Homo sapiens: one gene and its partner. The protein of the gene in region 1 interacts with the protein of each later gene in a pairwise test. Each region holds a gene or a part of one and is shown in the gene's direction. Other genes may lie near its edges.

Region 1 (7,268 bases):
TTTTTTTTAGGATTTTTTTTGTTTGGTTTTTGTTATTTCTTCCATTCCAGAAAGGGATAAACAGCACTTCCAGGGGGAGAAAAAAAATCATGTTATCAGAAAGCAAAGAAGGGTGAGAGCTTCACATTTCCATGTATGCCTTTTCCCCGCCGCCCTAGCTCCCTTCGTCTTCCTTCTCTTCCTCATGGCTTTCATTCCGTCTTTCGTTTTGGTTTGTTTTCAGTCATTCTGCCTTCCCCCTTTGTCCTGCCTGCCCAGTTTCTAATTGGCCCCACATGCCCTTTCTGTATGGGAAATAGATATTTTTTTTGTATAAGCCTTTTCTCTAGATGTAAGCAGCTAAATCTCGTGTTTCTCTGGGGGCCTGTTTAGCTGGGGGCACAGTTCCGATTTTCCCCTCCCCCTAACCCCCCTAGTGCATCCCTTCTTGACTGCTCTAGGGAGGTTCTTCTGACCTCTGAGTGTCAGTCAGTCAGCCTGTTGGGAATGCTGACTTTTCTGGTGGTGGTTATCGGCCTGGGAGGCTTGGTTTCCCCTCTCCTGAGCCTTAGGCCTCTGATCATCTTGATTTGATTTTTTTTGCTTGGTGTTTGGGTGGTAGAGGGGGTGAGATTTGAGATAGAAGTTGGGGACGAAGACAGAAATCAAAGGTGGAAAGATAGTTTATCTGAAGTGAATCTCTGGGATTCTTTGCCTGAAATGGGAGCTAACTTGTGAGATTAAGAGTGGGAGAGTGGGTTTGGTGTTCTTGGGGGAAGCTGCCTGTGTGGGGGAGGGTGTGTCCTGACTAGGAGGCCTGCTCTCTTTATCTCTTGGAAGTTGGAATGAGGGAGTGGGAGAAACTGGGTGAAAGCCGAATGTAGGAACAGTTTCTACACCTCTGAGCAGGTAAAAGTGGCCCTAATCTCTGAGCTCTCATACTCAATTCAGCAGTTTTAATTTTTCCTTTTGAATGAGAGAGGGTCCTTGAAGCTTGAACCTTCACCAGGCCTGCTTCTTCCCTGCAGCTCCCACCCCCCGCCCCGCACCCCCCACCCCCCACCATTTTCTCCATGCTGGTGTCTCCAGATCCTGAGGATCAGCAGGCCTTTACTTATTAAGCAGTTGATTAAACACAGGTCAGGCTTTTTTGCCAAAGCCTTGGCCATTCTTTCTTGTCTTTTTAAGGGAATCGGGCTTCCCTTCGTTTCTCGTGCAATTTTGCCATATAAAGGTGCCTTTGGCCAGGGAGACTGAGGCCACAGGGTTGTGGGCAAATCACAGTCACTTTTGTGGGACTATTTTCAGAGGAGGGTTTTTCTCCTTTCATATAGGAGTACTCTGGTGAGTTATTACCTGAGAATAGTTGGAGTCCTAACCCCACAAATGACAACTTTTAACTCATCTGGGCAATAGGTGGATGTGGTTGCTGTGATCCACGCTCTTTCCCCAAGGAAAATCTATTTCCCACTTTTCCCATTGGGACAAGGTCTCTAACCTTGATCAGAAAAGCAGCCCTCCTAATCCCACCCAAGTGATGAGGCAGGAGGGTTTCCTGACCCAGTAACTAACATCTTGCTCTCTCTTCCCCTTGGTTCTTTTCTGCCCGCCCCCCCACCACCACTCCCCCCTCCTGTCAGTGAGGAGAAGGAGGAAGTGACCATGGACACAAGTGAAAACAGACCTGAAAATGATGTTCCAGAACCTCCCATGCCTATTGCAGACCAAGTCAGCAATGATGACCGCCCGGAGGGCAGTGTTGAAGATGAGGAGAAGAAAGAGGTAAACATCCAAGCCACCTATTGGGGCGGGTGGGCAGGAATGGACCTAGGGGAAAGAGTAGAGCACTCTAGTGATCCCTCTTACACGGTGGGTTAACTTAAAGGAGGGATGAGGCAGGGACTTGGATCAGAATAGGGCCAAGGGAGAATTCGCTGGTTTAGCAAGGGAGACCCCTTGTGACGGGGACAGGGCTCATTCATTTTCCTTTCCTTGTTGGGGAAGTAGTGCCCAGACTCTAGACGTTTGTAACTAACGGGAAAGTCTGATAATGGCCCTTTATCTAAGATTTATGTTCAGCTTTTCCTGCTGTCTTCCCAAGCTTCTCCTGGTGGTAACTCCTTTAGCTTTCCCTCCTTTTTAAAAGCCTGATGGAGCCCAACGCCATCTAGTGGACATTGGTGGTTCTCACCAGACCAGCCATGCTGAGAAATTTTTGTTCCTCCTCTGCCCTCCAGTGGTCTGACTGCAGAGATGTAGCTACTTAGAAGCCAGCACTTGTGATCCGGAAGGCCCATTCTCAGTTACCTGTGACCCCTCTACCTCCTTTTTTGGCATATGTTATCTTGTGTCCTGCACCCACTTCAGGGGGCTTCCCCCATCAGAGCCAGCGAAGTCTTCTTGGCTCTTAAAGTAATTGAGAAAGAATGAGCTGGGTTTAGGAGAGGGGTAACAAGGTGGGAGGGACTGTTGTGTGTGTAGCCTTTTTCTGGTGTGTGTTGCGGGGGTGGGGGCCGGTGAAAGTGATTTGATGTGCAGAATATTATTTATTACAAGGTCCTTCTTCCCCGTAAAACTTTGTCCAAGTACCTCATGTACGGTAATCCGCCCGTAAAATATAACCCTGCCCAACTGGCCAATCGCTGATGCCGCCTCTTCCTCTGGACCCACCCGCTGCTACTGAGCTGCCCAATCAGAGCCAAGTCTGCTATCCAGGTGTCTTGGCCAGAGGGGGGCATGTATATGGGCTCCTGTGATGGGCCCCCTTTTGCCTCCCTGTCTTGCTTACATCAGGGGGCCAAGAAGAACACTGTTCTGGAGAGACTTGTATTGAGCAAGCAAAAAACATTTGGAAAGGGGTGGACTTGCATCATCTCCCTACTTGGGACACCCCAAGAAGAGCTTGTGCCAGTGCTGGGGCGCCTGCCCACATGCCCTTGCCCTTTTGAGGACTGTGGGTTGCCTTGTTTGCTACAGACTGTTGGGATCCCCATCTAGGGCACCAAGACCTCCTAAAGTTTGTGATCGCAGTGCCATGCTGTAAAACACTGAGTGGGACCCTCTACTTAAGCTGTGACGACTAGGAACCGTGCAGAGGAGTCTAGGGTCTGAGCCCCTGGGGATTTAATGCTGATGACAGCCCAGCCCATGTGTCACCACTTGCTCATCAGATGGACTTTCCTTTGGTCCCTGTTGTCCATGGTGAAGGGCAGCATGTTGGTTGCTCCAACTTCTCCTCCATCCCTGGAGGCAGGGACTCATTTCATCCACCTGACTGGAACCACTGTCTCAGCTGGAGTCCCTGAGGAGATGCCAGCCACAACTCTCCGAAGAGAAGTATTCTGACCTTGCTGCTGAATGTCTGCCAGGTCCTGGGGTATTCACCTACCCCCAGGCTACCTTCATCAGAGGCTCCATGATCCCACTCGGTGAGAGGACCCCCTCCCCAGTTACAGGCAGAGGAGAAAGGGACTCTGGAGTCATCACCTGGATTCCAAGTATTGGGTGGTGTTATTGCTGCAGCTTGCCACTGGTGGACATAGGGTCCTGCCTGCCTCTCACGATAAAAGGCAAGGATCATTCCTGCTACTCACAGGCCATCTCATCAGGGACTGCAAGATGATGTCCCTTCAGGGCCAGGACTGATGTCTCTGCCCCTTTCCCCCCTCTATCCCTCGCTGAGCCTGGCCACCGCCAGTGAACTGTCTTGACATCATGGAAACTGGGCAGCGTCCCCCCACACGTTTCCCTCCCGCCCCCCCTGCGCCCCTGGGAGGACTCTGGCAGTGCCGTGCTGACTACCACGCCGTGCGCCCACCTTTTTTGCCAACCCAACCCCCCACCAATTGCACAGCGCCTAGCAGGGAGGGCTCATTCTGATTGGACCGGCGGTTGACTAGATACAGTACACAGTGAGGTGCGATTGGCTGAACTGAAGATCCCAGGTGTGAGATGGTACCTGGAACATTTGTCATATTCCTAGTTTATTTTCTTCTTTATTTTCTTCTTCTTTTTTTAATATTTTATTTTATTTTTTTCTATATCTTTATTTTTTCTGATTTCTTTTATTTATTTATTTGGTTCATGTTTTTCCTGTTTTAATTAAGACCTTTTTTTTTGTTTTGTTTTTCTCACTAACTTACCCATCGAGAGCGGCCCAGCTAGGGGTCAGGCTGGCCCTTAACAGAGACCAAGGAGACTTGGTTAGACGACACAAACGGGGCTGCGGGTGGGGGTGGATGGGAAAGGGATTTCATCACGAGGTTTCTGCCCTACCCTTTAGAAGAGTGGTAGAGTGGTCTTAGTTTTTCCAGAAATAAGCACCTACACTTGAAAATACTCTATTCCCTTTTTCTCTCTCACTTTTCTCCCCCGCCCCCCATAGTCTTTCGTCATTCACCCACTGAGTGTTTGGGGTAGAGACTTGTCCCAAAGATGTCTTCTGGTCTTTGGCAGAGCCCCTAAGGCTTGAGCCCTGGTTGGAGAGGAAACAGTAAGACTCTGCTGGAGCTCCCTGCGGTGGCTGGAAAGTCTAAGGATCTCCTTGGGGACAATCTGCCCTTCATAAAAACCTTCCTTTATCAAAGACACCTTTGAGTTCTTTTTGCTAGCACTTGGCTCAAGAGCCTCATCTCCAGTGGGTCTGGTGCTGCCCTTTTCCACAGTGTGGTGGGGGTCTGGGCAGTCTTGACATGACAGTCTGCTGTCCAAGCATCTCAAAGCCATTGTCAGTGGGCATCAGTCTGGCCATTGAAGAAAGGAGGGTTACCTTGTTGAAGTTGCCATCCAAAGTTGGTTTTCCTTGTTTCCTCGAGTTAGCAAGGAAGGACCTGGGAGGACTAGATGACCCAGTTTGGGGCACAGTTTGTTTGGCTTGGTGTCCTCTCGACTCAGACGGTGAAAGAGGGGGTATGACCAACATCTTTAGGGGGCTGAGAGGCTACTGAACTCCTCTTCCAGCTTATTTCTGGTTAAGCTAATACACAGGTGTGATACGGAGTAGATGACTTTTCCCTGCTCTGATGTTTAGTTTTATTTTTTTCTCTAACTTGCATTGATTCTGCTTCGTTTTTGCCGTTTGCCGCTTCTGTTTTGGTCTCTGTCTGTCTCTGTGTCTCTCTCTGTCTCTCTCTCTCACTCTATCTGTGTCTTTGGAGGCTAAGCTAAGACTGCCCCATCTAACCTCCTTCCCCCCTCTCTGTGGGGTGTCTCTCTTTCTCTTTTTTTTCCCCTTTTTCTTCTTCATACAGAGCTCGCTGCCCAAATCATTCAAGAGGAAGATCTCCGTTGTCTGTAAGTCCAGCCCCAAATCCCTGATAAAAGTCAGGAATACCATAAAAACCAGCATTCATTGAGAACCAGAATTTCATTCTCAATGGCATTCTTGGGTCACTCCCTCCTGCCCCACCCCTTGTGCCTAGCAAATCTGAATCCTTTCCTATGTAGGGTTTCATTTTGGAATTCAAAACTTGAGACAATCCCCATCATATTGCTCCAGTCACATTTTAATGAGATACAGTGTGAGGTGTCTGAGACCATGTCCCATTTAGCCTTAGAGGCATTTATTCTTTCAGATACCTGAATACTCAACAAGGAATGAGTTTCAGGGACTCCTATGTGATGCTTAGCAGTTTATGAATTATTCTGGGTATTTTGTTGTTGTTTTTTTGAGACGGAGTCTCCCTCTGTAGTACCCTAGGCTGGAGTGCAGTGGTGCGATTTTGGCTCACTGCAACCTCCGCCTCCGGGTCCCAGTTCAAGCAATCCTCCTCCGCCTCCTGAGTAGCTGGGATTAGAGGCATGCGCCACCATGCCCAGCTAATTTTTGTATTTTTAGTAGAGATGGGGTTTCCCCATGTTGGACAGGCTGGTCTTGAACTCCTGACCTTGTGATCCGCCTGCCTTGGCCTCCCAAAGTGTTGGGATTACAGGCGTGAGCCATCGTGCCTGACCTTGTTTATGCGTTATTCTAAGAGAGCACCCAAGGAAATGAAAGTGCCCCACACCTCAAACAGTAACAATTTTAACATTTTCCCCAATGAGGAACTCTAGATTACAAAAGTATAATAGATGTTTATAACTTAAATATCAATCTGTAGTGTGAAAATTAAAGGAAGACCAGATCCCATCATGATCTTAGTTCTGCCTAGATGTTAGTATCACATAGTGTTCTTGTTTCTTCTGCATTTACATGTCCTTCTCAGTTTTTCTTCCACACTACTTGATATTACTGTCTACCATTAAAAGTTTAAACGGCTCATCAAACTAGCTACCCCTCCCTTACTGCTTTTAGATCAGTGTTCAGTCTGAAGCCATGGTTTCCCCAGTTCCCAAATATGATTTCTTTTCTTTTTTTTTTTTTGAGACGGAGTCTTGCTCTGTCACCAGGCTGGAGTGCAGTCAGTGGCACCATCTTGGCTCACTGCAGCCTCCGCCTCCCGGGTTCAAGCAATTCTGCTTCAGCACCCTGAGTAGCTGGGATTACAGGCATGCACCACAACGCCTGGCTAATTTTTGTATTTTTAGTAGAGATGGGGTTTCACCATGTTGGTCAGGCTAGTCTCAAACTCCTGACCTCGTGATCCACCCGCCTTGGCCTCCCAAAGTGCTGGGATTACAGGTGTGAGCCACCACACTCAGCCTCCAAATATGATTTCTTTAAGTTAACCTTTTACCAAAACTCCAGCCAGAGGTAACCTGTAGGTATTACGGTTTGAACTAGCAGAGGTCCTGAGACCATCTAACTGTTGGGTCTATTTCTTGGGGACAGCAGCTACCAAGGGGGTGCCAGCTGGAAACAGTGACACAGAGGGGGGCCAGCCTGGTCGGAAACGACGCTGGGGAGCCAGCACAGCCACCACACAGAAGAAACCTTCCATCAGTATCACCACTGAATCACTAAAGGTGAGGTGGGAGGAGCCAGGGAAGGGAGGATGAGACCTGTTAAGGTGGGAGTAGACATGGGCCCAGTGTAACGGGGTGGGGGGTATCTGTGTCCCAGAGCCTCATCCCCGACATCAAACCCCTGGCGGGGCAGGAGGCTGTTGTGGATCTTCATGCTGATGACTCTCGCATCTCTGAGGATGAGACAGAGCGTAATGGCGATGATGGGACCCATGACAAGGGGCTGAAAATATGCCGGACAGTCACTCAGGTAAGGCTTCTGCACCCCAGTGTCAGGGGAAAGGTGGGAGCAGTAGATGCAGAGCAGCTAGCTGAGGAGCTGAGATAAAGTCTTTGGAGGGAACTTCCCTGTCTGTGCAGAGGGTTGGGTTGACTGACACTTTCAG
Region 2 (7,899 bases), about 16 Mb from region 1:
CCGGAGAGGCCAGCGCCCAGATATGAGGAAGGTTCCCCTCTCACCACGATGTCGGGGGCAGAGCAAGATAAAATAAGACCTAAAGCTCCCGCCTGGCCCGGGCGCGGTGGCTCACGCCTGTAATCCCAGCACTTTGGGTGGCGGAGGCGGGTGGATCACATGAGGTCGGAAGTTCGAACCAGCCTGAGAAACCCCGTCTCTACTATAAGTACAAAATTAGCGGGGCCTGGTGGTGCATGCCTGTAATCCCAGCTACTCGGGAGTCTGAGGCAGGAGAATCGCTTGAACTCGGGAGGCGGAGGTTGCGGTGAGCTGAGATCGCGCCACTGCACTCCAGCCTGGGCAACAAGAGTGAAACTCCGTCTCAAAAAAAAAAAAAAAAAAAGAGCTCCCGCGGCCACCTCCTTGTTAATTAGCAATAGAAGTTAAAAAAATTCTTTTGGCTTCATCAAAAGCATCCACTTCCTGCCATATGTTCTTCAAATATGAAAAGTTGTAGAAAGAGTTTAAAATATACGTTTTCACAGTGCAAATTTTTTAAATATTGAAAAGTTATCCCAATTCCTATTGAATTAAGCCCGGGTATACAAAAAGAATTAGAGCCATTTTGACCACCAGGAATTTTCCTGTTAGTGGGGTGCAAGGGACAAGGGAAGTGGAGCAAACGAAAAACAAGATACACTTGAACCGGAAAATACAGACTAATCAGAGGATTAGGTGAAAAGTGCTATAGAATTCAGAAAAGCGATGTCACTGCAGGATGGAGTTGCTAATAATCTACAGCAGTGTGAGACAACTGTAGGAATTGTCCCACTGCATGTGCAAATAAATACACATGCTACATCATAGTATGTACATCTTAAATTTGGCAAATTCAACCGTAAGCATGTTGCTTAGCCTGTGATTAGTTCTTCCATTGGTAATTCACAAAACAAAATTTTTCCCCAATTGTCCCTGTTGTTTTCCCCCAAATTAACATACCGCAAGGTGGCTCATGCCTGTAAAATCCAGCACTTTGGGAGGCCGAGGCACGGGGGGTGGGGGGGATCACGAGGTCATGAGTTTTGAGAGCAGCCTGGCCAACATGGTGAAAACCCGTCTCCACTAAAAATACAAAAATTAGCCGGGCGTGGTGACAGGTGCCTGTAATCCCAGCTACTCGGGGGGCTGAGGCAGGAGAATCACTTGAACCTGGGAGGCAGAGGTTGCAGCGAGCAGAAATTGTGCCACTGCACTCCAGCCTGGGCGACAGAGCAAGACTTCGTCTCAAAAAACGAAACACACACACAAACTCTTCATGCCCTTTCACAGGAATTTAAGATCATGTTCCAAAATTTTAATTGTGGTAGGTTTTTTTTTTAAGCATGTCCCTTCTAATGTTTGAATCAGTTTATTCCATTCATCACGTAAATCCAGCATAAAAGCTCCACTTAAGCCTTTGAAAACACTAAATTGTGTAATTTTGAAGAGTATTTTGCCATGGTAATCTTAATTTTTCCAGCACTAAATTTTCAGTTATGCGAAATCAGGTCCTTTATGTCTAGATGACATTCTTGCCCTCATCACTACCATCAAGAAAAAGGAGTCCAAGTCCACCACACAAGTCAAAAAGTAAGTAAATGGCCAATTTATCAAAGTTGACTTCTCCAACCACAATAACATGAGGCTTTTAAAGTACGTTTCTGGATAGAAAGGAAACTTATTTAATGAGGACCTACTAACTATTGAACACAGCATCCTACTTATCCTTCTCCATAAAGTTAAATTGCCAAGGCTCCTAGGAATAGATCCTATGGAAGCAAGGACAGTGAGTGTGGTGTGTGTGTGTGTGTGTTTTGAGACAGAGTTTTGCTCTTGTTGCCCAGGCTGGAGTGCAATGGCACTATCTCAGCTCACTGCAACCCCGCCTCCCGGGTTCAAGTGATTCTCCTGCCTCAGCTTCCCGAGTAGGTGGGATTACAGGCATGCACCACCAAGCCCAGCTCATTTTGTATTTTTAGTAGAGACGGGGTTTCTCCATGTTGGTCAGGCTGATCTCGAACTCGTGACCTCAGGTGATCCGCCTGCCTCGGCCTCCCAAAGTGCTGGGATTACAGACTTGAGCCACTGTGCCCAGCTGTGTGTGTTTTGTTTTGTTTGAGACAGAGTCTCACTGTTGCCCAGGCCAGAGTGCAGTGGCATGATCTTGGCTCACTGCATGCAACCTCCACCTCCCGGGCTCAAGCAATTCTGCCTCAGCCTTCCAAGCAGCTGACACTACAGGCACTTGCCACCATGCAGGACTAATTTTGTATTTTTAGTAGAGACAGGGTTTCATCATGTTGGCCAGGCTGGTCTTGAACTCCCAATCTCAAGTGATCCGCCCACCAAGGCCTCCCAAAATCCTGGGATTACCGGGCCGACCATACATGCAAACATTCTTACACTTGCTGAATACGCTCTACTATTATCACACTCTCATGCCTCAGGTACTGCCTAAGGTTGTACACAGACCTGTAATAAGATCAATGAGGCTAAGTATGCTCACAATCAGAATTAGATAATTGTCAATCTTCATCCCCATTATTCATCTCTACATTTTTTTCTCCTATAGTACTTCCCGCTTTCTAACATGCTATACTATTTATTTATTTATTTATTTATTTTTGAGACAGAGTCTCACTGCTGCCCAGGCTAGAGTGCAGTGGTGTGATGACAGCTCACTGCAGTCTCAAACTCCTGGACTCAAACAATCATCCCGCCTCAGCCTCTCCAGTACAATTTTTAAAATTTTTATTTTTAGAGACAGGATCGTTGCTATGTTGCCCAGGCTGGTCTTAACTCCTGGGCTGTAGCGATTCTCCCACCTCAGTCTCCCAAGTATCTGGGATTACAGGCACAATCCACTGGACTTGCTCAGAGATCTTTATTGTACACTGATATACCCAAGTGCCTAGAATAGCACCTGGCACATAGTGGGCCCTCAGTATTTGTTGAACTAATGAATGATCATTGCTCCTTTGGAAGCCTACAAACCCCACAGAAGCAGGAATCACAACTATCTTGTTCTAGGCTTTATTTTCAAACCCTAGCTTACTGCTGATACACAATGGAAGCTCTAAAAGATTGCTGGATTAAAGTGGTAGCTTGAGTTAATTAATACACTGGGCCCACTAATTCTTTGTACAAGGAAGATAGATGCCTGGCTGAGATTATTTAAAGCATTGTTTCTGTGGGAAAGTGTTTTGTTTTTTTGTTTGTTTGGGACGGAGTCTCACTCTGTCGCACAGGCTAGAGTGCAGTGGTGCAATCTCGGCTCACTGCAACCTCCGCATCCCGGGCTCCCGAGTAGCTGGGATTACAGGCGTACACCACCACTCCCAGCTAATTTTTGTATTTTTAGTAAAGGCGGGGTTTCCCCATGTTGGCCAGGCTGGTCTCCAACTCCTGGCCTCAAGTGATCCACCTGCCTCAGCCTCCCTAAGTGCTGGGATTACGGGCGTGAGCCACTGTGCCTGGCCTGTGAAAAAATGTTTTCTGAGCTTCAATTTGTATATATATTTATAGAACAAAACTAGTTCCTACATTGGCAGTGCAGGTAGGGCAGAACCAGAAGCGGGACAACACACACAGACACCACTAACAACAGGGCCGCTCCCTTAGGTCTGGTCTTAACCAGCTCTAGGCCAGGTGAAGAGGCTAACTCAACCATGACTGCGTGTCTGTCTCGCCATTGCTTTCTTTTCTCTAGTATAGATGCTCAGCGTCTAATCAGAGACTGATTCTCAACTGGCGTGACCAAAGGACAGTTATATTATCTCCAGTCTCAATTTCCTTATCAGTAATAACAGGCATTTTATCCACACTTTCAGTTTGTGAGAAATAAGGCATGTAGACGGTTTCACAGAGGGTCGGGAACAAGATCAACCCCTAACAAACGTTAGCCATTATGACTAATGACTTTTACTAGTTTTCATTTTTGTCTTCCCTCTTCTCACTTTAACCTAATCAGGCTGGGCGTGGTGGCTCACGCCTGTAATCCCAGCACCCTGGGAGGTCGAGGCAGGCGAATCACCTGAGGTCAGGAGTTCGAGACCAGCCTGCCCAACATGGTGGAATCCGGTCTCTAATAATACAAAAATTAGCCAGGCGTGTTGGCGCGCGCCTGTAGTCCCAGGTACTCAGGAGGCTGAGGCAGGAGAATCGCTTGAACCCGGGAGGAGGAGGTTGCAGTGAGCCGAGATGGTGCCACTGCACTCCAGCCTGGACGACAGAGCGAGACTCCGTGTGAAAAAAAAAAAATTAACCTAATAGAGGAAAGCACGCGCCCACCCCCTCTCTGAGCATGCGCACCAACAGAATAGCCGCGCCCTTTCCTAATTAAATCATTAACCAAGGTGAGGGTAAGGAAGAAAAGGAGGCTTGGCTAAGTCCCACTCTGATGTGATCACGTTAAAACGGTGTAAGGCACATTACATCATAGGTTAAAAGGCCTAGAAAACTCCGCGCTCCCCTTGCCAGAACTGCAGACTCGCGAGCCTAAGTCTCCGAGAACTCAGGGATTGTGAAACCCGCCCCGACTCTGCGCTAGCAGCGGGATCCAGGCACCCGCAGCTAACTGGGGAGGGAGATGACTGCCTGGCTGACTTTTCATTGGCTCAGAGTCACAAAGGCTGCAGGTTCTTCCCCCTTCCGGTCGCTGAGTGGTTGAGGCCGGAAGACAACGCTCATCGTCATTGGCTGAGCCCGGCTGTCAGTCCTTTCGCGCCTCGGCGGCGCGGCATAGCCCGGCTCGGCCTGTAAAGCAGTCTCAAGCCTGCCGCAGGGAGAAGATGGCGGTCGCCGTGAGAACTTTGCAGGAACAGCTGGAAAAGGCCAAAGAGAGTCTTAAGAACGTGGATGAGAACATTCGCAAGCTCACCGGGCGGGATCCGAATGACGTGAGGTAAGGGCCTAACGGGAACTCGGAACTCGGAGCTCGGAGAGGCAGCCCTCAGGTCGGGGTGAATTGGGGGCGGGGAGGGCGGCCAGCCTTAAGAAGACTGGAACCTCGAGGCCTGTTCGCGGGGCGGCGGGTAAAACCCTGTTGTCGCCGAGGTGGAGAGGCCCCAGGTCCCCTCCGTAGAGCGCTGGTCTCAGGTCCCTGAGGAAGGAGAGCGAGGCCTGGGTGCGCCGGCATGCTTTCTTGGCCTGTGAGAAGACCCGGACTGCTGATTCCCGCTCTCGGCCCTGCAGGCCCGGAACTGCAGCACAAAGCCCCTTCCCGCTCCGGCGGACACCCGGCCCGTTGCTGGCCCCGAGACCCTGCCGGGACGCAACAAGCCGCCTTACCCCAGCTTCCTGTCCACGTGCAGCCTCCTCGGGGATGGCGGGATGGGGACCTGATCCAGGCTTGTTAATGTGTGGGGGCATCGAGGTGAATATAATTTCTGTGACACAGGTCCTGGAGAAACGAGGAAGTTAAATGAAATAGTACTTCCTGTCCTGTTTCAGACATTTAGATTTATTTGAAACTATCTTTTTGGAACTTTTGTGATTTTTTCTCCTTATGATCCACATCTCTGAAAGTATTTGGGTGCGACTGTGTGTGTCTACATATGATTTTGCACTGATTTGTAAATCTTTTACAGGCCCATCCAAGCCAGATTGCTGGCCCTTTCTGGTCCTGGTGGAGGTAGAGGACGTGGTAGTTTATTACTGAGGTAAGATTTCCTTTGGACTTTACTCATGCTGAAACTACTGGTACTTTACTAAATATGTTGGTTTGAACAAAACCTGTGATAAAATCAATAACCCAGTGTTTGTCGTCTTTGTTTTGTTTAATGTTGTAATAGACTAGATTTCTGTATAAATATAGTTATCCTGAAAAACTGGAGGTTGAAGAATATATTAAGTTTACCAATTTTGAGTGAACTTAATTCTTATAAAGTAACACTATAAAAGCATTTTGGAATGAATGCCCGTTTAAGGCTACTTTAGTTGGAAAGATTTTTGAAAGTTTAACCATATTCTCTTGTCAAATGGAAATACCATTTATCTTGTATTTCAAGTGTTTTATGTTGAACATTTTAAATTTCAGGCGTGGATTCTCAGATAGTGGAGGAGGACCCCCAGCCAAACAGAGAGACCTTGAAGGGGCAGTCAGTAGGTAGGTTTAAAAAAAGATTCCTGAAGGCTTCTTTAGTTTCTGAGGTACCACACAAATATAAATGTTTATTAACAATAATTCTGTTTCAGCAATATTAAAATTGAGTGGTATGCCACTCCCTGCCCCCCCCAAGTTCTGTTGGTATTTGACTGAACAGTTGACTATCAGTTCCCTCAAAACGCAGTTCTGCACTCATGATAACCTAAATTTTATCCAAATAAAGGTCATGTGAAGAGTAAAATTGGAAAAATTGTCAATTAGTACCATTTTTTCTGACTTGTACTTGAAAAACTTAACCAGTTTGAAATACTTAGAAAATACAGGAGAGCAAAATTGGTTTGGGCGTTAGTTCACACATTGTAGTATCCTTTCTCTGCTGGAGGAAAGAATAAAATGGGATGGAGACTTGATAGAACAAAGCTTCTGGAAACGAGTCCTAGAAGAGAGGGCATTTGCCCTTGGTGTGCAGTTACATAAATACCTCAGTGGTCATTTAAATTAATTTTTGGCCAGGCACAGTGGCTCATCCCTGTAATCCCAGCACTTTGGGAAGCCAAGACCAGCAGATCACTTGAGCCCAGGAGTTGGAGAACAGCCTAGATACATGGTGAAATCCCATCCCTACAAAAAGTACAAAAAAGTTACCCAGGCATGCTGGCTCACGCCTGTAGTCCCAGCTGCTTGGGAGGATGAGGCAGGAGGATCACTTGAGCCTGGGAGGTCGAGGCTGCAGTGAACCGTGGTGGCACCACTGCACTTCAGCCTGGGTGGTATAGTGAAACCCTGTCTCAAAAAAATTAATATTTTCTATGACAGGCTGGGCGGGGAGCGTCGGACCAGAAGAGAATCACGCCAGGAAAGCGACCCGGAGGATGATGATGTTAAAAAGGTATTGAGATTGAAAGAACTTAAATGAATGTAGTACCTTCACTTTACTACATTTAAAAGCACACCACTCATATGCTAGTTAAATTACTGAGATTTTCTTTTTCTGCAGCCAGCATTGCAGTCTTCAGTTGTAGCTACCTCCAAAGAGCGCACACGTAGAGACCTTATCCAGGATCAAAATATGGATGAAAAGGGAAAGCAAAGGTATTTCCCTGGGGGAAAAAAACTCTAGTGAAATAATGCAGTTATAAGGAAAATCAAGGGATTGTTCAAGCATCCTGTAGTATTTCTTAGAAAATGATGGGTTTAAATGAAATGGATCCTGTTGACAGTAAATTTTCTTATTCTGTTCTTTAGGAACCGGCGAATATTTGGCTTGTTGATGGGTACCCTTCAAAAATTTAAACAAGAATCCACTGTTGCTACTGAAAGGGTATTTATCCAAGTTTTGTTTTGCATCATATATTTAAGTTATCAAAGTAGTAGATTAATGTTTTTTTTAAAAAATCCTTAAAGCTCTTTTAAGACCTAACTGTAAACCTGAAACAAAGCCAAGTAAAAACTTGGTTTAACTTCTTATAGAACAGCTTTACTTAAACATTGTGTTGGAATATAACAGTTGTTGATATCATAGCTAATAGCCTTGAAATTTAGATATGTGAAAAAAAAAAGCCTCAAGTCTCCATTTCCTTAAAGACAAATTACAGTCAGTACCAAGTGCTAAGTTCTAGTTAGTTGGTATCCTGAATTGAAAATGTGAAGCGGCCAGGTGCAGTGGCTCATGCCTGTAATCCCAGCACTTTGGGAGGCTGAGGCAGGTGGATCACCTGAGGTCAGAAGTTTTTCGAGACCAGCCTGGCCAACATGGTGAAACCCTGTCTTTA

What was found.
Region 2: the proteins of ACIN1 (region 1) and PNN interact in binary tests that used the Homo sapiens proteins (3 or more experiments, as listed by UniProt).

The regions. Positions count from the first base shown.
Region 1 is NC_000014.9:23,063,969-23,071,236, reverse strand, and holds part of ACIN1 (apoptotic chromatin condensation inducer in the nucleus), read left to right. Parts: exon of another isoform or gene 1-89; coding exon of another isoform or gene 90-112; intron 113-1,619; coding exon 1,620-1,761; coding exon of another isoform or gene 1,762-1,857; exon of another isoform or gene 1,858-2,535; coding exon of another isoform or gene 2,536-2,625; exon of another isoform or gene 2,626-2,772; coding exon of another isoform or gene 2,773-2,976; exon of another isoform or gene 2,977-3,877; intron 3,878-5,228; coding exon 5,229-5,271; intron 5,272-6,748; coding exon 6,749-6,882; intron 6,883-6,979; coding exon 6,980-7,132; intron 7,133-7,268.
Region 2 is NC_000014.9:39,170,469-39,178,367, forward strand, and holds the start of PNN (pinin), read left to right. Parts: upstream 1-4,785; 5' UTR 4,786-4,811; coding exon 4,812-4,924; intron 4,925-5,310; exon of another isoform or gene 5,311-5,412; intron 5,413-5,609; coding exon 5,610-5,681; intron 5,682-6,058; coding exon 6,059-6,127; intron 6,128-6,943; coding exon 6,944-7,016; intron 7,017-7,124; coding exon 7,125-7,219; intron 7,220-7,372; coding exon 7,373-7,448; intron 7,449-7,899. UniProt on the Homo sapiens protein: Transcriptional activator binding to the E-box 1 core sequence of the E-cadherin promoter gene; the core-binding sequence is 5'CAGGTG-3'. Capable of reversing CTBP1-mediated transcription repression.